Linked DNA regions of Homo sapiens: regions 1, 2, 3 and 5 are each reported to be linked to region 4. The links are microRNA targets in miRTarBase. Many come from high-throughput screens and were not tested one by one. Region 4 holds a microRNA gene; each other region holds the end of a gene's coding sequence. Distances are between the middles of the regions.
What was found. Region 4 holds the annotated microRNA hsa-miR-4526 (GCUGACAGCAGGGCUGGCCGCU, at 2,587-2,608, opposite strand). A microRNA usually pairs through its seed, bases 2 to 8, with sites in the 3' UTR of a target mRNA and lowers its output. Matches are read on the target gene's strand: a 7mer-m8 pairs with bases 2 to 8, a 7mer-A1 pairs with bases 2 to 7 and ends in A, and an 8mer does both.

Region 1 (4,102 bases), not on the chromosome of region 4:
CTCTGCTCATGTGTGGGGCCAGCCCCCACGCGTCCCCTCGTCAGCCGCTTGCTATCCTTGCAGCTGGCGTGAAGTTCCGTGTCCTCCGGCACGAGGCCGGCAGGCCCCTCCGCCTCCTGATGCAGGTGAGGCCCCTTGTGGCCAGGACGCCCCTACGCTGCTGCCCCTGTTCTGGGACGGTGGGGTCAGCTGGGTGTAGTGTCTGGGTGGCACCACGCCAGCCTGCGATGAGGTACAGGGAGGGCCCAGTGGAGCTGAGGGGGAAGGCCCACGCGGGACCCCCTCCCCCTTACCCCCAGGGCCTGAGGACACTGGTGTGGTCCTGTGGATGGGGCCCATTCTGCCCTGTGTCGGAGGCGCCCTTGGCTGGCTGGGGCTGCCCTGGGCCCCACAGGGCTCAAGTTCTGGGTGGAACAGAACCGACTGAGTGAGTCCTGGGGTGGGGTGTGCGTCCCTGTGGCACGGCCCCTCAGAGTTGGGCAGCCCCGAGGGGAGATGCAGCTTCTGCCTCCCCCCAGCGCTCCCTTCTGGCTGCAGGCTCACTTGCCTCCTTGGGAACTGGGACTGGCTTCTCCCACAGGCAAGGGAATGTCTGAGACAGCACTGGCCCTGCCTCACAACTGCCCGCCCCCACCCTCTCTCTGCAGACGGGGTTGGAGCTCAGACCACCCCACTGACCGCTGCCCTTGTCCTTCCAGATAAACCCACTGCCCTACAGCCGCGTGGTGCACACCTACCGCCTCCCCAGCTGTGGCTGCCACCCCAAGCACTCCTGGGGCGCCCTGTGCCGCAAGCTGTTCCTTGGGGAGCTCATCTACCCCTGGAGGCAGAGAGGGGACAAGCAGGACTGAGGGAACTGCTGGCTCGCCTGGCACCACCACACGGCCACAGCCAGCCATCTGCTCTGCCAGGGTGGCACCAGCTCAGCTGGCGCATGTCCTGTGCTTTGTGGACGCTGCTGTGTGCTCCTGAACACGGCAGGCCCTGCTATCACACCTTGGGCTTGGAGGTCATTGGGAGTGAGCAGATGTGGGGGTGGCCAGCCAGGCTGGCCGCACTCCATCACTGGCACTGCCTGCCTTGGGACCCGCTTCCCACCTGCTGCGGTCACCATGGTGGCGAGCACAGCAACCCCAGGTGTCCAGAGCACTGCCCCATGCCCACCCTGTGTACCCAGGTCCAGAGGGTCCGTCCACCACAGCAGCCCCAGGTGGAGGGCTGGTCTCCCTGGGGGCTCCCCAGTGGCTCTGCCCTGGCTGTGGGGGTGGAGGGACCTTGCCAGGATGAACCCCCCAGTCCCAGGCACCCTCTAGCTCCCTCAGCCGAACAGCACCCTGCATCTGGGGGATTGAAGCAGTCGCTGACCCCCGTCCCCAGCGGGCCCGGGCCCTCACTCCCTGAACCACACGGGGTTTATTTGCGGATGTTCCCTGGAGAGGTCGCTTTGTGAAGAAACCATCAGCAGGCTGTGAGCATCGCCAGGCTGCTGTGGGGGCGGGAGCAGCCTCAGTGTCAAGGGCCCGCCCACTGACCCAGCCGTACCTATTCGTCCACGGTGCCCCGTAGCAGCAGGTCCTGCGGCCAAATCTGTCTCCCTTCATGGGCCTCCCAGGGAAGGAGGAAGCCCTGCTGTGCAGACACCTCTGTGGCCCCCCAGGAGTGTGAGTGGCCTGGGGAGGGGGCCGTGGCACTGAGGCCGAAAGTGCCTGCCAGACGGCACGGTCTGGGTGCGGGTGTTCCCTGTGAGCCCGAGTCCGCTTCAGGAGGGGAGCCTGCAGGTGCCGGCTGGTGAGGGGATGACGCGCTGTGGGTGGGAGGAGGCAGCGCCCATCTCAGCAGCACCAGGACTGCCTGGGACTCCCTGGCAACCCAGCACCGGGGAAGCCGTCAGCTGCTGTGACAATAAAACCTGCCCCGTGTCTGGAGCGCAGGCTCGGTCCCGGGTCCATGTGCAGCGCGGGTCCAGGGAAGCTCTGGGGGGGGGGTGTGTGGACGCTACTCGAGGGACTTGGGCTGCCTCACGTGGGTCTGCCCTGCAGAGTCTACACCGGCCTCCTGCTGGAGGCCCTGACGACGGCTGATGGGACGGGCTCACAGGCCCTGGGCCCTTGAGGACTTTGGTGTAGGCAGGTGAACCCGGGCCGCCCACCCTGGGGGCCGCCCACCCTGGGGTCGTGGCCTTGCCTCGACATAGATGGTGCAGGGGTGTAGGCCTCCAGGGGTGGGGCGAGCAGCTCCTGCTCTGAATCTGTGGACTCCATGTGGGGTGGGCCCCTCGTGGGTCCTGGCCCAGTACAGCCTGCGACTGCCACAGCTGCTAAGAATGGTCTCTGTCGCCTGCAGTGCTGGGGGCCCAGCTGGCGGGCCCCACAGCCCGTTCCCAGCCCGAAGTGTACAGGCCTCCATCCAACCTGGACTTCCAGGCAACCAGAGGCACTCAGGGCCCACCAACCCCCTACCTGTGTCCCCTGCCTCCCCCCAGCTGCCCACCTGGCCCACCACCCCTCCCATCTGTACTCTCCCCCACTCACCCTCCAGTTGCCTACCTGGCCTACCCTGCTCCTACCAGCTGCCCACCTGGCCTGCCACCCCTCCCACCTGTGTCCCCTGTCCCCCAAAGCTGCCCACCTCGCCCCCCACCCTTTCCACCTGTACCCCCAACTCCCCCTCCAGCTGCCCACCAAGTCCACCAACACCCCCAACCTGTACCTCCCGCTCCCCCCAGCTGCCCACCGGGTCCACCAACACCCCCAACCTGTACCTCCCGCTCCCCCCAGCTGCCCACCGGGTCCACCAACACCCCCAACCTGTGCCTCCCGCTCCCCCCAGCTGCCCACCGGGTCCACCAACACCCCCAACCTGTGCCTCCCGCTCCCCCCAGCTGCCCACCGGGTCCACCAACACCCCCAACCTGTGCCTCCCGCTCCCCCCAGCTGCCCACCGGGTCCACCAACACCCCCAACCTGTGCCTCCCGCTCCCCCCAGCTGCCCACCGGGTCCACCAACACCCCCAACCTGTGCCTCCCGCTCCCCCCAGCTGCCCACCGGGTCCACCAACACCCCCAACCTGTGCCTCCCGCTCCCCCCAGCTGCCCACCGGGTCCACCAACACCCCCAACCTGTGCCTCCCGCTCCCCCCAGCTGCCCACCGGGTCCACCAACACCCCCAACCTGTACCTCCCACTCCCCCCAGCTGCTCACTGGGCTGCCACGCCTCCTGGGGCTTCCACCAGGTCAAGGTCTTGACACAGCTCAGTCCACTGCTCTGTGATGGCCATGTCATGGGTCGTGCCTGGCAGCGGTCACCCCCTCTGCTGGGCACTGGGCTGACTGCCTATCCCGAGGGCCAGCTAGGTTTGGCGCCAGAGCTGGCCAATGGAACACCGTCACCCCAGCCACTCGCAGCCACCAAGAGGTGCCGCCTGCACCTGCAGGCTCCGTCTGTCCTTGCTGCACAGCCCCTGCCTGGAGACAGCCTACACCTGTGGGGTGCCCCTCATCCCTCCACCAGAGCTCTGGTCCCCCCTGCCTTGCCGACCCAGACAGGGCAATGGGCTGGAGCTTTTCCAAGGCCTGCCCAGGACCATTTATGGACCCTCAGGGCACCCTCAGAAGCAGACACCTTCCCTTTCAGAGTTGGGGCCGCCCACAGAGAAGGGTCTCACCAGTACTTCACAGATTCAGACTTACAGAAATGCTGTGAGAATAACACAGATGCTTCCAGCACCCTTCACCTACATCCCCCCACGACCACATGCCATGTGTATGTTTTCACATTTTTTCTTTTTTTTTTTTTTTGAGAGCGGGTCTCTATTTTCCAGGCTGGAGTGCAGCCTTAACCTTCCTGGGCTCAGGTGATTCTCCCACCTCAGCCTCCTGACTATCTGGGATTACAGGCACCCACCACCACGCCTGGCTCATTTTTGTACTTTTAGTAGAGATGGGGTTTCACCGTGTTACTCAGGCTGGTCTCAAACTCTTGGGCTCAAGCCATGTGCCTGCGTCGGCCTCCCAAAGTGGTGGGATTACAAGTGTGAGCCACCGGGCCCAGCCAGCACATTCTTTATGTTTTTCTGCACCATTTGAGTCAGCTGCCCATTTT
Region 2 (4,119 bases), not on the chromosome of region 4:
GGCGGGAATTGCCAGACTGCTGAGCCAAACTTAAGTAAGAAGGCTCTGTGACATCGGGCTACAATCTATCTTTCATAATATTCAAGGCTTTCCCGGATGCTAAAATAAGCCAGAGACAAGCTCTCAGGGTCTCCAGTATCAGATCACTTCTACTTCCATTAAGGCTTATCCGCCTTCCATCCCTCCTAAGACCAGTTTATTATTTGCCAGTAGTACTTTAATTTACTCAAAGAAAAGGAGGTTCATCATGATCTTGCCAAATCATGTTATTTTTTTAAAAAATCTGTATAACCTAAACTTGGCTCAAATAATAATGTCTCCAAAAGGCAAAACCTCATACTGTTTCTCAAATTCAAGTAACTAGTTTGGGGAAGGAGTTTGCTGGGAAGAAAGAGCAGGAGGGGGCTAGTTGATTTGTTTGCCTCATTGTCAATTGTGATATATCTTACCAAAAATGACAAAACTTGTAGTCATAAAAATAAACTCTACCCTTTGACCTAGTAATCTGAGCTCCAGATATTTATCCTAAAGACGTAATCTAAACGAAAGAAAATGTGATACCGCAATTGACAATAATATCTATTGGTAATACTGAAAAAAATTATGAACTTCCCAGTCTAGTAATATGGAGGTGGTTATGACAGATGAATTCAATACATTATGAAGCCAATAAACTTATAAAAATTAAACTTGCAAGAAAAAATCCCATATAAGGTTAAGTGAAAAAAGGCAAAGCAAACCCCAAACTGGGTGTTAGGGATTCAGTAATGTGAAAATACATATGAATGAGCAAAGATGAAGTAATTTACTGTTAAGACAATGAAAGGAAGGATAATGTTTAAAAATAAATCCTTAAAAATACCTTCAAATTGTCATTTCTCTTTTATAATTTTTAAAACATCAACTCTTGGCCGGGCGCAGTGGCTCACGCCTGTAATCCCAGCACTTTGGGAGGCCGAGGCAGGCGGATCACCAGGTCAGGAGACCAAGACCATCCTGGCTAACACGGTGAAACCCCGTCTCTACTAAAAATACAAAAAATTAGCCGGGCGTGGTGGCGGGCGCCTGTAGTCCCAGCTACTCGGGAGACTGAGGCAGGAGAATGGCGTGAACCCAGGAGGCGGAGCTTGCAGTGAGCCGAGATGGCGCCACTGCACTCCAGCCTGGGAGACAGAGCGAGACTCCGTCTCAAAAAAAAAAAAAATCAACTCTTTTGAGTAACTGCTCTAGTATAACTACTCTCATTTTCCTCTCCTAAATTACTAAGAGTTTCAACTGGCTCTCACCTTGCATTGCCATTTAATGTATGTGGCATAACAGAAAGGGATACACGTAGGCCCTGGAGCCATACAGACCTCGAATACAGTCCCTTGAACCGTTCCCTTCAGGTTAACTCTAGTGGAATGAAACACAAAAACTACAGGTTCGTTTGATAAAGAATATGAATGTTTATAAACCAATATTCAAAATAGCTGCACACATCTGTTTTCACTTGAATAAAAAAACACATTGTGACAAATTTTATAACCTTAACTTAAAATACATGAATATTAACATTTACTAATATATTTACACATTTTATTTACATCATCAACAAATCTGATGAAAAAGAGCATATGTGATTATTTTAACACAGCAGGTTATGACCAGTCTTTGAATATTGATCCAGGAATGTGCACTGCATTTAATTAGAAAACATACTTTTAACTTTTTCTGAACTCCTAGGGCATATCTATTCACACAAAATATCGCAAGGCCTCAGTTTAAAAAAAAAAGGAGCAGTTGTATTTAATCTTAAGGGACTACAAAACTGCCTTGTTTAAAAATATGAAAATTCTTATGCTATTTTTAAGATACTTTTATTACTTTTATTTTTCACATCAAAATTACTTAATTGAACATTAAGCATCTAATAAAAAGTTATAAATATTCTATCACATGTGATACTATGCACTTCATGATTTGAAACAGCTACAAACTCATTCTCATAGAATATGAGGTAGGGCCAGTAGTAACCCCATTTTACAAAGGAAGAAAATGAGATGTGACTATTTACTAGTGAAAAGGCTAAAGTTAAATTTCATTTCTCAAAAACTACACCTTCTTATTAGCCTAATTTCTTTTACAAGTGAAGCGGTCTGGCCAGGTGCGGTGGCTCACACCTGTAATCCCAGCACTTTGGGAGGCCAAGGTGGGCAGATCACCTGAGGCCAGGAGTTCAAAACCAGTCTGGGCAACATGGCAAACCCCCGTCTTTACTAAAAATACAAAAATACAGGTGGCGCGTGCCTGCAGTCCCAGCTACTCAGGAGGTTGAGGCACGAGAATCCCTTGAACCCAGGTGGCAGAAGTTGCAGTGAGCCAAGATCATCCCACTGCACTCCAGCCTGGGCAACAGGGGAAGACTCCACCTCAGGAAAAAAAAAAAAAAAACACAAGTGAAGAGGTCTGTTTCAAGTGGGGGTGGGGAAGTGTGTGATTGAGGTATATCTCAGAGAGAAAAAAGGGAATTACTTTCTACATTGATAATTTTTTTTTAATGATTAGGGTTTACCTGAATATGTCTGCCTAATCAATGGAAGTTACTGACAGAGGACTGCAAAATCCTTCGGCAAGACAATATTTTCTACACTTTAACTTTTCCTCAGGTTCAAACACTGCATTTTCTTACTCAAAGATCTTCTCAAAGTAAGATATGAATTATAATCCTGATGACAAACCAAGAGCTCTTTAATCCAGTGGGTTTTATTGCTCTACCTTCATTTAATTTGATACATATTTCCCCCCTCTGAGCATTAGGTAAGTTAATAAAGCATTATAAAAATAAATTTAAAACATAAAACTAAATGAGATCTCTCAGGTTCTTCTTTGAACAAAGATGTTTCTGTAAACACTTTTACACCAGTATCTTAAAATTCCAAATTATTCAAGTATCTCTTTAAACATATGGCTTCATATATTAATAAAAATTGAAGCAAATATGTGAAATCTTTAAATCCTCATCTGTATTTCCACAGAAATCATTTACAAAAGCTACTTGCCTTTTTAAAAGTCTTCTCAATACTCTTTCTTGAGAACTAGAATTCCAACTTGCATTACTATTACTTGCACTGCAAATCTTTGAGATTTCTACTTGTGTTTTTAACTCCTATTATTTCCTTAATTCTCCTTTCCCTTTACCCTTTTTTCCTCTCCCATCTTTGCATCTTTGTCACATTCTGTTACAAGCTCACAGTTAAAATAAACACTAGGGCTACCCACAGACTCATTTTTATAAGAAATTAAAGGCATGGCAGTCTTCACTTCAAAAGCTAAATACAAGGCCAAATTCCCTTTCCAATAATGAGTTTCTTACATGTGTTCCCAGTGGAAAAAAAAAAAGCTCAGCTGCTACAATAGAAACATATCAGCAAAGTAGATCCAAAGATGTGCCAATCAGAAACAAGCAAGCATAATTCTCATAAAGTTCTAAACTATACTCATGTTGAATTGAATTGTTTTAGTGATTCCAAGACAATACTTTACTGTTCCCATTCAGTTTAGAGTTGTTACTAATATGCAGATTCATGTTGGGTATATGCAGCAAACAACTTTTTGTTGTTTTAAATTTTGTTTTAAATTCCACTAACACTCATATTTATTATTTCAATTACTGTTCTTTCAATACAGTGACAGAGCTGTACATCAGGATCCATGCTTCCAGTGTCCCTGGATCCATTTTTATAAGATGAATCTTTACAGATTTGAGACCATCCACTTGGTTTCTCCTTTATTTGTTGAAGACCTACAACATAAGGGAAAAAAAACATTAAGGCCAAGAAATTTGGAAAGGAATTTGGCCTTTTTGTTTGAGATATTAAGATAACCCTTGAAAATAAGTTACCACTTACGTGTAATAATTGGATCAATGTCTCTTGTCTGAGTGGCAACATCAGAGGCACAAACTTGCCCTATTTGGATCAGCAAAGACATAATATCCTCATACAATGGAGGAAATGCTCGACAAAAAGAGACCAAACTTGGCAGAGTTGGCATAAAAAAAGCATACCGCTTAGCCTGTGTTAAAACTGTTGGAAAAAAATGAAACAATATTTTAGTTTACAAATATAAATTCAACAC
Region 3 (4,119 bases), 7.7 Mb from region 4:
ATAATAGTAGTTAACATTTACTGAATATTTTTATGTGCCAGGAGTTGTTCTAAGTCCTTTAATTATATTAGTTTATTTAGTCCTCATTTAAATAATTAATTCTATGTGCCAAATTCCATTTATTATCTCCATTTACTAGATGTGAAGACCCAGTTATAATGTTATATAACCCCCTAAGTCACACTTTGAGCCACTATGCTATGTTGCCTTATACTTTAGATTTTTAAGCCTAAAATTATTCTATTAATAAAAAGGAAGGTCATATGAAGTAATTGTTTAGCAGTTGATTCTATTTTAAATAAAAGGAACAAACCTTTGTATAATACTCTCTATGTTCCAAGCCCATTATAAGCACTTTACACAAATATTAGTTCATTTAATCTTTACTCCAGTCCTGTAAGATAGGGACATTATTATTCCTATAGTGTGGAAAAGGAAATTGAGACACAGAGAGACTATGTAACTTGTCCATGGTCACCCAGCTGGTACATGACAGAAATTCAGGGAAAAAATACCATCACACCAATTGTTGCAATTATTTTAATTTAACATTCGAGTCCTGCCACTGCTGTTTGTCTCAGAATAAATTGTTCCATCTTTCTAAATCTTAGAAACCTCATTTATAAATTAAAGGTGGGGGGATTCTATCATCTATAAGGCCCTTTCAAATACTCTTATTTATTGTGTACAAAAACCCCTGAAAAGTCACTTACAAAAAAACTTGTTCATGCCCGTCTGAAGATTTACGAACTCCAGCTTTTTATCTGACTGTGCATTCTGACAATTTTCTGCATTTCTCTAAGAATGGTCTGGAAAGGGATCTGGCAGGAAATAAAGAATATATAAAGTATTTTGATGGTCTCCAGAAATGCCCATTTCAACTCAGCATCTGCCGACAGGTCTACCTAATCTTCCAAACTCTGTGTAAATCCTGGATCCACCATTTACCAGCTGTGTAACCCTGGACAACAATTCCATCTTTCTGACCTCAGTGTCTTTCTCTGCAAAACAGCGGTAAGAATGATCCTACTTCAATAGAGTTGCTGTGAGGATTCACTGAGATCATGTGTACCAAGCTCCTACAATAGTACTGAACCCACAGTAAGTACTGAGTGAAAATTAGCATTATTGCAGATTTCTGCTCCTATGAAAGTTACGATTGTGAATTACTACACTTATACACTTCCTCTGAAGTCTAAAGAAATCACAGGCTCCTCCCAAGATTTGGAAAATTGAGCTCATCTTTGTCTATCTTCAGAAAAAAAATCTAGTTAAATTGTTCAATGGTTAAGTTAGATATTATCTGATATGGAACTAAGTTTGTGAGATATAAACAGTATTCTGTCCACCCCTCCTTAGTTAAGCTAAGAGGTATTAGCTTTATTATTTGCTAAATGTCACTTAGCATTTGATAAATGTAACATTTACAGTGCATTCTCCGAGGACTGGAAACAGTATTGTAGAACACCAGAACCTGTTTTCCCCTTGAAGTAACACGCTATCTCAGTATATAAATTACCCAGTACCCAAGGTAATGGAGAAGAAAACCTAAGGAAGTTTGACATTTACTTTGGAAGTGTGATAAAGCAATTGAGACTGTTGAAATTTAACACTACCTTGAGGTCTTATTACACTTGCATGTCACTCCTTAGTGCAAACTCACTTTTGCTTTATAGAAGAGCCCAATATATTAATCTACAGCCTTAAAGTGAGTTACCGGTTTAATGCAGATCCAATCTGAGAATAAATTAGGCCCTTTTAAAGTGTATTACAGAATGTTGAGCTAATGGTAATTGACGACGTATATTCACTCTTTGCCAAGTTGTAGGTACAAATGTGATATGATTACATCCAGGACAAGAGCCTGAATTTAAGTAAGGCTTTTAGAGCTGAAGATCATAGAGATTATATCATCTACCAGAGGCCCAGAGGGATTAAGTGATTTGTCTAAGGTTATACAGATAATAGGTGGATATCCCAGATTTCAGACTAGACTTTCTTGAGCTCAAGTTCAAGGAAGGTCCATTCTTCTACACTATGCATTCAGCAATATATTACAATGGTAATAATAATTACAATAACCCCCATCTATTGAATACATCCTGTGGGCCAAGGGTTCTGGTAAACTCCACACATATAAACCCTCCTCTGACCCTGACCCTGTTCTATTCCTCTCATAGCTCCATGAGATATGTCTGGTTCTCTTCATTTTACAGAAAGATGACTGAGACTCAGAGTTTGTGACTTGTACAAGGCCTCACAGCTAGGAGATGCCAACAGCTGGGTCCAATCTCAGCTCGGAATCTGCACTCTGTCTACAGGACTAGCGCTTTGCCCAAGGAGACCAAAATGAAGACATCTTGTCTCCTGGTCTTGAAAATTAACTAATTCACTTTTAATGACATCAAGTGTAAACAATCTACCAAATTATTAAAACATTATCTTTTTGTCTATGTAGGCCATGGATCAAGACCATTAACTTATAATCAGTGATAGCCAAGAGGATGGGAAGAGAATATTAAGCCTGGTGCTCTGCAAATTAATACTTGCAGGTAAATGAGAAGTATCATAGGCATATTACTATTTACTTAACGTTTCATTCTATTTGAAAGAGAAATTCCCAAATGTTAAATACTACCCTACATTTTAAGCTTAAAAATACGCTGGACATGCGACAATGGTGCTGAGTACTTTGGGGGAAGATCACAACAGTCCTGGTAGCAGTGTCACAGCAAAATATTTCAGAGGTACCAGATGAGCTAGCTCCAAGGCAAATGAGGCAATATTATGTTTAACTGTTTGTTCGGAAACTTCTTTTATTAAAAAAGATTTTAAATATTAATGCTATTTTCAATACAGGTGTGATAACACTCAATAAAGCATGGTGTACTTGATATAAATTTCGGAATGTAACAGTCCATCTAGTTCCTGGTCCCCTCCAGTCTCCACCACATAGCCTAGTAGCAAAACGTACACACCCGTTTAAAAATGAAGAAGCTTTTGGGCATTGGGTGAGCACAGTGGGGTGGGGCAAGGAAAGTGCTCGTTCCTGAATTATTCATGCTTTTGGCTTTGACTTCAGTTAGTAACATCAATTCTAAGAGAACTGAGACAAACTCTTCTATGTTCCGCAAAGGAATGGAGAAAAAAGCCTGCCATTCGCAAGCAGCTGTGGGCAAAACCAGCGCAGAGTACAGGGGTCGGGAAATGAGGGATTAAAAAAAAAAGTCGGAGTAAAGTGCACAGTTACTGTCAAAAATATATTATTTTGATCCTAAGAAAATTAAAAGATTTTATCTAATGGACTAGATTGCTGACCTTTTAATACATTTGGTTTTCATTGAACATACAATCACCATCGGACATAAAAAGACTAGTTTGCTTAAAAAAAAAAATCCTTGGAGTTATCTACAGGAATCTTGTGGACGCAATTCAAGGATAACATTCTGCAGCTCTTTGGATATTGAATGATGTCCTCGGATCAGTCCACAAAAGAAACAGGGACCTGTTAATGCACTGATTCAAGTGGGCGTTTCTCCCATTTTCTCTTTCCTCCTCCCCAACCCACCCCTTTCTCTAAATGCCTGTGCTTTCCAGTTCTTCTTCTACCCCTATGGCATGAGACCTGGAAATCATGATGAGTTTCTCCTTGTTTGTAAACTGCCTCTGCACCGGCTGAGGTTGCTCGGCCGTGGGTGGCTCCTGGCTGGCACCCTCCGGCGAGCTCTGCTCCGCACCCAGAACGGGGGCGGCCACAGCAGAGTCTCGCGTTTGACCAGCTACTGCGTCCAAGACCGACTCGGTGGAGGTGCCGGCCTCCCGCAGGGGTGTGTAGCCCTTATTGCTGCTGGATGGGTCATCCGACTGGGAGCTCCCGGAGTCCCGCCTGGTGGGGGGCGAGCCCTCCAGCCGCAGGGGTGGCGAGGGGGAGGCGGCCTTGGCCAGAGGGCTGGAGTCCGGGTCCGCACTCCCCGGGGAGGGCGGGGGCTCGGGGGACGGCGGCGCCCGGTAGTCCGGGAGCCCGCTGGTGCTGCGGCGCCGCAAGGCCGCGTACCTGCCGGTCCTGGGCAGGCGGCCGCCCTGCCCCCTGGCGGCGCGCGCCGCTACCGCGCCCTCGGG
Region 4 (4,119 bases):
GGGCAGCAGCCCGTGATGACTGGACGGACTAGGGAATCCCTCGAATGCAGACTCCACGAGCCCGTCCAGCTGGAGTGGCATCTCCTCACTTTATGAAAGCCCAAGCCTTCATCCACTACAATTACTTCTCACCACGCATTTTAGAATCTAGAGTTTCATGATCTCTTCAGAAAGAAATTTACCTAAATATGTTCTGATCAAAGATGACTGACAGGATTTTCTAAAAAATCAGCAGAGGAGTAAGAGCAATTATAAACCTTTTAAAAGTCTATCCCTCTGCCATGCTATAAATGGAAAAAAATACATACATAAGCCATAATTCCCCCTATAGGATTCATTTAAAATCCACCCTCACCTCCACCTCCACATTATTAATTTAGGAAAGTGCATCAGAAAAAAAACACAGCTGCACATGGAATGGAACCTTCATTTCCACAGGGGAGAGTGGTGGCTTCTGAGGCTCTCATCCCACAGCCAGTCTGTCTGTCTCTCACTTTCTTTGGCTCTCTATCTCTCAGAGTCACAGTTCTCCTTCCTAATAGCTCCTGTCACTACATGGATGACCTAAGAAAGTGTTCAATGAACCAGCCACATCCTGAGAAATACCTTTTCTTTAAAATGCAGTTTTCAGCTCATGAGGGTGAAGAAAAAGGAATTATTAACAAGTAGCAGAATTTCCAGGGGAGGTCTCAGCCTTATATACAGACATTTGAAAAAAACAAAACTCCAAAGCAACAAACTGTGTACTCATGCATAACACCTCCAACAGGAACAAACTAATTCCAGGCTTGAAAGAAGATGAAAAAGCCTGACATGCATCTTCCTAAAGGGAGTCCCACCCGGAAATGTTCTGAGTTGACAGACCCCTCTTAGGTAGAAAGAAACTTCTTGAGAAAGAGCTTCTCCTCTTCTCAGCTCTGTCCTCAGACCAAACTCCAAGAAGAACCACAGCAAACCCGAAAGAGCATGCATCATCCATAGCAGTTCTTGGGAAATGTACCTTTTTTTAAGAACAGGTCTTTGAACTGAGCCTCCTTCAGTGTGCTGTTGTTCAGGTGGTCACTGGACATAATCAGGTCCTCTGCAAGTGGGAGTCCAACTGTGACGCAGCCCCCCCACGTTCAAAGCATCCCTTCAGCTTCCGGCAATCTCCTCTCCAGGCAGCTCAGAGCTGCAGTTATAGCTGGCATGGGGTGTGGGAGAGTGTGTGAGCGTGGAGGGGGGGGGGGTGTGTTTCTGTCTGCCTCGTTCACTCTCTCTCTACTGTATCAGCAGGGCCCACCCCAGGTGCTAGACTCAAATGCTGTGGCTCCGACCGCAGACTGTGGCTACCAATTATCAACTGCCATCAACAGAAACCAGGAGCTCTGCGGCAGGAAGCCGGCCGTGTCACCGAGCAGAGAATAAGTCCGGGGTCTCCGATCCTGAGACCAGCTGTACACCCAGGGCACTACTGTTTACAGCAACGTCTATCAGTGAGCAGTCTGCACTTCTCAGGTTTGGCCTCACACCTGGACGTGTCACACACACAGGCAAGCAGAACGCAGCTAGACGGCTCATCTTGTCACACTGCGTTCAGTAATCTTTTCAACAGGCAAATATCAAACCAGTCCAGACAGAAAGGAGGAAATCTGCAAGTCTCACACAATACTCCTTCCCTTGATCTCTGCTGGAAGCTTTCAGTGTGGAAGGACCGGAGAGGGCGCTTACCAAGGCAGGACACGCGACAGGCGGGACGCTCACGTTAGGCTCGCGTGCTTCTCCCCTGCAGATCCGCTCCCAGAGCGTGCTCGCCCGGCTGGGAGCACCCACAGCGTCCCTCAGGCTGCGAGCCAGGCTGCGGGCTGTCCTCTTCTGGTGCTCCCTCTCCACATCCTCTAACTGATGGGAGCAGCTCCCAGCGGCTCTTGCCACCGAGCTCTGTACTGGCAAGGCGTGAGGTCCTAACCGCAGCAGGAAACACTGCGCGCTCCTTTCCCCCCGGCTCGCTCTTCCCTCTTGGCTCTCCCATTCATTCCCTCTCCCTCTGCCTCACATCATTATTCCCCATGTATGGTAGCACAAAAACACCACAGAGACTCCTTCAAAGTCAGGATGCTCAATGTTCCTAGGCAGTTTTAGTTTATAAGGATCAGAAATTAGAGAACAGAATCCCAGGCAATTCAAACATGAAAGCAGAGACATGTCTCAGGAGGGCGCTTTCTCCTGGTTCATTTTGTTCAAGCACAGTCTCTTTTCCCCGAGGTCTAAACAGTTTGTTTCATCTGAGTGTAAAACATCTCCCGTGCATTCGGATGCCCCCAGGCTGTGTGAAGAAAATTCAGGGCAGGCTGCGAGTCTGTCGCAGTTTTCAGAGAAAATCACGGGGTGGCCGTGGTGGAAAGGGCAGCCTGCCATGGTAACGCTGCAAATAACCCCCACCACAAGCACTGCCGGGAGCCCAGAATAGCCTTTGTTTTTCCTTATTTAGGGTAAATAGGAATGACATGTGGGCCATAACAATAGTTTTGGCTGTAGGAGGAGTTGTCAAAGCAAAACTAAACTCTGTTGGTTACTACCAGCGTTAGAAGCCAGGACAGTGACGTTAGCGGCCAGCCCTGCTGTCAGCCCAGCACGTCACCTGGGGCATGACAGCAGGGACTGGGCCCTGATGTCACCGCAGGGTCCTCCAGGTGGCTAGAAGACATCACTTTCTCATGTTCTCATTTTTGGGGGCAGGGGCAGAAAAGCAACAGAAGAACCACCCAGAAGAGTTTCCAGAAGCTTCACGTGGATAAAAGGAAACCAGAGAATTTCAGCAAGGAAAGTGACCATTTATTAATATACAGCCGCGAGGGAAATCCGGATGGTATGATTCTTCCTGAGCAATTTCCGAATTAAAAATGGAACTCCCCTCCCTGTGCCAGACTTTCCCTGACTTCTCAGAGTCACCCTGCTGGGTGAATGAAGAGGGAGTCACCCTCAGAAAGAGGCAGCTTCAGAAAGAATTAGAAGCTGCAGCCACTTCAAGCCGCCCCTCCCTGGCTACCAGCGCCCCTTGTCCCTGGAGCCCCGAGGCTCCTTGCCACCTGGGCCAGCACTTCCTGGTCAGGCTCAGTCACATGATAGGCTTGCCCTCAAGCCAGGGCCTTAGTGAGGAGCGCTGTAGGCCACTGTACCTGTCTGTTTCTTAAAATTAGGGCTTTGTGGGGCAGGCACGGTGGCTCAAGCCTGTAATCCTAGCACTTTCGGAGGCCGAGGTGGGCGGATCACCTGAGGTCAGGAGTTCAAGACCAGCCTGGTCAACATGGCGAAACCCGTCTCTACTAAAAATACAAAAATTAGCCAGGTGTGGTGGCACACGCCTGTGATCCCAGCTACTCAGGAGGCTGAGGCAGGAGAATTGCTTGCAACTGGGAGGTAGAAGTTGCCATGAGCCAAGATAGGGCCACTTCACTCCAGCCTGGGCGACAGAGTGAGACTCCGTCTCAAAAAAAAAAAAAAAAAAAAAAAAAAAAAAAAAAAAAAAATTAGGGCTTTGGTGAACTTCATGGAACTGGAAAAGTTCTTCTCTCCTTTGCTAATGAACATATTTGCATTTTGAAATGGTTATAAATAGCCCGCTCTGGGATTTAACATGGTGTAAAATGAATATTTCATATATAAAAAAAGAAAATCAACATTTTTTTCTTTCATTTAACGGCCATCAGCTATTCCCCAGTGTCTCAACACACTTACTGTGTTTGGCTAGCTTCCCTGTCACTGGGCATCTTGGCCATGGGAGCCAATCTTTTTCTTTTCTTTTTTCTTTTTTTGGATGCAGTCTTGCTGTGTCGCCCAGGCTAGAGTGCAGTGGCGAAATTTCTGATTACTGCAACCTCTGTCTCCCCGGTTCAAGTGATTCTCCCACCTCAGCTTCCCGAGTAGCTGGGATTACAGGCGTGCGCCAACATGCCGGGCTAATTTTTGTAATTTTTGTATTTTTAGTAGAGATGGGGTTTCACCATGTTGGCCAGGCTGTCCTGGAACTCCTGACTTCAAGCGACCCACCAGCTTCGGCTTCTCAGAGTTCTGGGATTACAGGTGTGAGCCACCACGCCCGGCCATGGAGCCGATCTTAATTAAGCTCCTTGCCCACTC
Region 5 (4,119 bases), not on the chromosome of region 4:
AGTAATTCTCATTCCAGACTACTCTATCAGGCAGGATTACTGTACCGTGCTTGTTTCAAACTCACATCCACGGAGGGATAAAAAGACAAAATAAAACTTGACAGTGTGATACAACATGAAAATCTCCTAAACCATCAGGAGCAAACACTCAGTTAAAAGCTGGGTGTTAACAAGCAGCAACTCAAGAAACTTGGGGAGGTATCAAAGTCACTGAAAGCTTACTGGAACCTCGGAGGGCTATTTCTCACCATTTGATGAGTTGCATAGACTGCTTAAATTCTCCCAAGACCAAAAGAATAAAATTTGTATTTCAACTGCAAGATGTTCTAGATTCTCTCTTTTCTTAGTATCAAAATAACTCATAAACAAAAAAAATTGTAAATATTAATCAGTTCCCAAAATAACGGAAACACAGATATGTTTAAAATCCAACCATACTGGGATAGACAGGGCCCCTCTACAATTGCCTTTACTTGGAAGCCATGTATGTGGAGGAGTATGCATTTCAATATGGAGAATTAAGTAGCAGAGGTTTAAGATAACTCAGCAGTGATGTCACCATGATTTTATTTCCATATCCTAATCCATTGCTGTTTGCAACTGGAGATTTAAAATTTTTCTGTCAACACTGGTAAAGCCAATAATACTGAACTATGTAGTATACACTAAATCAAAACACTAAAATCATTTTTAAAAAGGAAGAAAAAAGAAGTTGAGGCTCTCTGATATGGACATACACTGATTCATGAATGGGAAGACTAGACTAACACCTAAGTATTTTCTAAACTCAAAAGCATAACTGATACTTCAGAAGACCGATTTGGATCGATGCTTCACTACAGTTCAGCTAACAGCAACACAGGTATCTGATTAAAAGCCTTAAGGACAATCCACAGGTATTTGTTTTTGCCAACACGAGTCTAGCAAAATTTTAGGAATGAGATTTACAGAAGCTGAGGCTCCAGGCCTACTTATCACCATCACTTATTTTTGACAGTCTAGGTTACATGGAGAAACAAAAAGCCATATTTATCAGACTAACTTTGGATGTATAAATCTCATTTCTCACCCTTTGAAGGTACAAGGATAGGAAAGACACATAGAGCTCAGAAACCACACAGCCCTTAAAAACCTTAAGTTTATGGAATTTGGACAATACACATGCTAGTTGACAGGCACATCTGTTAACCCAAAAACAAAGCAGCAGCTTCATGCAGAGCCCACAAGGAGCTTCATGACATATGCATAGATCTAAAAACAGACACTGTACGTATCTTAAGACAGTACCAGGAGGCATTAACACAGAAAGGTCTCTAAACTGACCTATGTCAGCAATGATCTACTAGTGCAAAGGCCGGACTACACGGCACAAAGCAACTCTTAGGCCCTAGTAAGCACTTTTTTCTAGTTCACTCCTGGCAAAGTTCTAAGGAACTTTACTACAGTACGGCCATGGATAACTGCTATGAGGCCAAATGATTATGTGCCTCTGTGGTAAAGGAGTGCATGTGATTAGAAAATATGTGACATTTGATGAGAGTAACTAAAAGCTGGAAAAGACATTTTTCAAAATCAAACCAGTGATCATCAAGTCCACAAAGATACAGATGCAGACTAAATGGCACATTCCCTTTTGGAAACAGACTCCAACAAACAAAATCTAAATAAATAGAAGCCCTAAATGTACTAAACCACAACTATATATCTACCAATTATCTAACACAACATAGAAAATATCAAGGGGAAAGAGGAAAATGTCATCTATAAAGTGAAGTGACACTCTAAGTCAAGAAGTATTAATGATTTACAGGTCAACAGAGAGCTCCTCGTTTTATACCCAGCAATGGCAGGAACTCTAGACAGTTCAAATATGCAAGATGCAGGGCACTAACCCACCGTCAGTTAACGTTTACTCCTGCCTACAAATTCCTTTCTATATTAGGCCAGTACATCATCAATTCCAACAGCCACAATTTTCTTCCCAACCTGTTCCTGGCAAGTAGCAGCATAAGTACAACTCCTGTCTCCCTATGACTTCCAAATGAAAAATAATTCGACCTCTCCCTAAAAAATCCTTGGCATGAAGTAAGCTGCAATCAAATCATGAAAACAAACTCAAATTGAACCACCTTTTCCAGAGCAAAAAAAATGCAATGAAGATCAAAGAATATCTCATTAAATGATCTCTGGCTAGGTAGTTTTCAGTGGTTAGACAACTAACTTAGAATTCTTTCTAGCCAAGATTTTCTGAAAGATTTATTAAAAATGTTCACTCCTAATATCTGGGATAATCAAGCCTCCATAACAACAGGACTCTTGACCTATTTTTATAAAGGACTTAGAAATCTTAAGAACCTCGATCAAGAACCTAAAGCTACCAAAGATGAACAATCTAAACACAATAGTATCCATTGGCTAGGCTTTGCTCATTCTCATGGCACCAGTACTGTTAAATTCACAAGCTCCAATCTCAAGTCATATAGGCTGCAAAAACTTGAGGATGTAGCTGTTTCCCTTCGGATATACACATAAAAAGCATGTCTTACATTTATAATGTAATTTTTAAAACAATGTTCTAAACTTCCAAATCACAATTTCATTGTTTTTAGTATCCTCTAGCTTCTCCCATATGGTTTGGGCTTTCACAGGCAGGATATACATAGCACATTCCCCATCTCTTAGAGACCTTAAGACTGCTCTCATTTGAACACTTTCCCAAAGCCTCACTTGAAAAAAAAGACACACCCAATTCTGTAGGGCAGAAGCTGGCCTTGCTCGCCAACCCTCCTTCCTCAACCCCATCTCTGTTTTGCACAAAAACAAAAAAAGGGGTAAAAAGGAAGTTCTCATAATAAGGTTAAGAGTCAGGGTGTTGGCTGTACTTGCCCAAACTACAAATTAGAGGGCTACTACTCAATTATAACATAAAGAAAGGGAAAAATACCATGTCAAATACATGCCTCTTCCTTTATGTTCTCAAGGCCAACCATGTTTTTCTCTAGTAGACTGTTGGAAAATGAAAACGGTAAGGAACAGGGAGGGAAGATAAAACATTATTTTTAAACACACACACTTAAAAACACACATACCCACACTTACATACACACTTAAAAGTCTGAAAAAAGTGGCCTGAGCCTATTTCAGAACTCCTAGCCAAAAACCTAGCCTCCCACCCACCCTCACACATTCCCACCCTCCAATCCCACCCACCAGGAGTTACTGCTATGTATCATATACACACAGCAAAATCCCTATCCCCTTCCCAATTATATAAAAAAACTAAACAGATAACTTACTTTCTTTAAATTATTAAGTCTATTAAAAGATTTGACGTTTAAATACTTCCTCTCTTCTGATATATTAAACACCGAAAGGATCCACAATTGTCTGATACAAGAAACCCTCCATTTTTCAGCTCTGGCAAGAAGAGGGAAGATATCAACTCCAATCAACCTAATTAGATGGTGGAGAGGCCAAGAATTCAGAATGTGTCCTTAATCCTTCACAGCTTCAACACCTCTCTAATACCAGTAAAAACTGTAAGAAAATAGTTAAATGCATGAGACAGCAGATATATAGCCAAGGCCTTCTACCACCCTCCTAACTATGTCTCAATATCAATTTATTCCCTAGTCCAAGGATGACATATTTCATAAGTAATTTTCTTAGTCCAAAAAAAAAAAAGAAAAATTATGTGTTTTTTTAAAGAAGTTTTTTTCTCCTCTTCTTTTTCTTTTTTTACTTAGGAAGGGGTGGAAGTGGTGGAGGAGGTTCTGATGGCAGAGGTGGTGGCCGGGGTTTGTCTGTATTGCCAGATCTCGAGGAGATTCCACCAGACCGAGGATTCAGATAGTCACTATAAGGACGAACAAATTCAAATGCAGTGGGCTGAGTGGGCTGAACACCCTGGGCACTGAGCAGGGAGTGAAGCATATTCACAGTGTCTTGATAGTCTATTGTCTGGGTCGTGTTGTGACCATTGGCCCCAGTGGGCCCTTTATCCAGTTTCGAATGAGGGACACGAGTTTTACAGCTGGGCTGTGAAAAGGAAAGGCCACTTGTGTCTGAGCTATGCCCAGGCATCTGACCCATTGTAGGAAGTGAAGGGAAGGAGAAATT

Region 1: miRTarBase lists PIGQ as a target of hsa-miR-4526. The part of its 3' UTR that is shown has no 7-base or 8-base seed match.
Region 2: miRTarBase lists INTS2 as a target of hsa-miR-4526. Seed matches in the 3' UTR shown: 7mer-m8 at 2,586-2,592.
Region 3: the mRNA of TMEM200C is a reported target of hsa-miR-4526. Seed matches in the 3' UTR shown: 7mer-A1 at 777-783.
Region 5: miRTarBase lists CCNT1 as a target of hsa-miR-4526. The part of its 3' UTR that is shown has no 7-base or 8-base seed match.

The regions. Positions count from the first base shown.
Region 1 is chr16:582,185-586,286 of GRCh38, forward strand. PIGQ (phosphatidylinositol glycan anchor biosynthesis class Q) reads left to right here. Exons shown (of 11, transcript NM_004204.5): 10 at 64-125; 11 at 699-1,925. The coding sequence ends at 851. Among named protein-coding and RNA genes, the nearest start is that of RAB40C, 5.8 kb to the right of the region's middle. RefSeq lists enhancers at 973-1,729, 1,730-2,485.
Region 2 is chr17:61,863,943-61,868,061 of GRCh38, forward strand. INTS2 (integrator complex subunit 2) reads right to left here. Exons shown (of 25, transcript NM_001351695.2): 24 at 3,891-4,067; 25 at 1,425-3,784. The coding sequence ends at 3,615. Among named protein-coding and RNA genes, the nearest start is that of BRIP1, 2.5 kb to the left of the region's middle.
Region 3 is chr18:5,886,622-5,890,740 of GRCh38, forward strand. TMEM200C (transmembrane protein 200C) reads right to left here. Exons shown (of 2, transcript NM_001395400.1): 2 at 1-4,119. The coding sequence ends at 3,577. MIR3976HG (MIR3976 host gene) reads left to right here. Exons shown (of 10, transcript NR_172496.1): 8 at 900-1,101; 9 at 2,459-2,552. Among named protein-coding and RNA genes, the nearest start is that of TMEM200C, 6.8 kb to the right of the region's middle. RefSeq lists a silencer at 3,942-4,119.
Region 4 is chr18:13,609,656-13,613,774 of GRCh38, reverse strand. MIR4526 (microRNA 4526) reads right to left here and starts at 2,661; the gene lies at 2,575-2,661. All of the region lies in intron 4 of LDLRAD4 (low density lipoprotein receptor class A domain containing 4), which reads right to left. RefSeq lists enhancers at 1-501, 922-1,151.
Region 5 is chr12:48,689,295-48,693,413 of GRCh38, forward strand. It overlaps CCNT1 (cyclin T1), which reads right to left. Exons shown (of 9, transcript NM_001240.4): 9 at 1-4,119. The coding sequence ends at 3,739. Among named protein-coding and RNA genes, the nearest start is that of KANSL2, 9.1 kb to the left of the region's middle.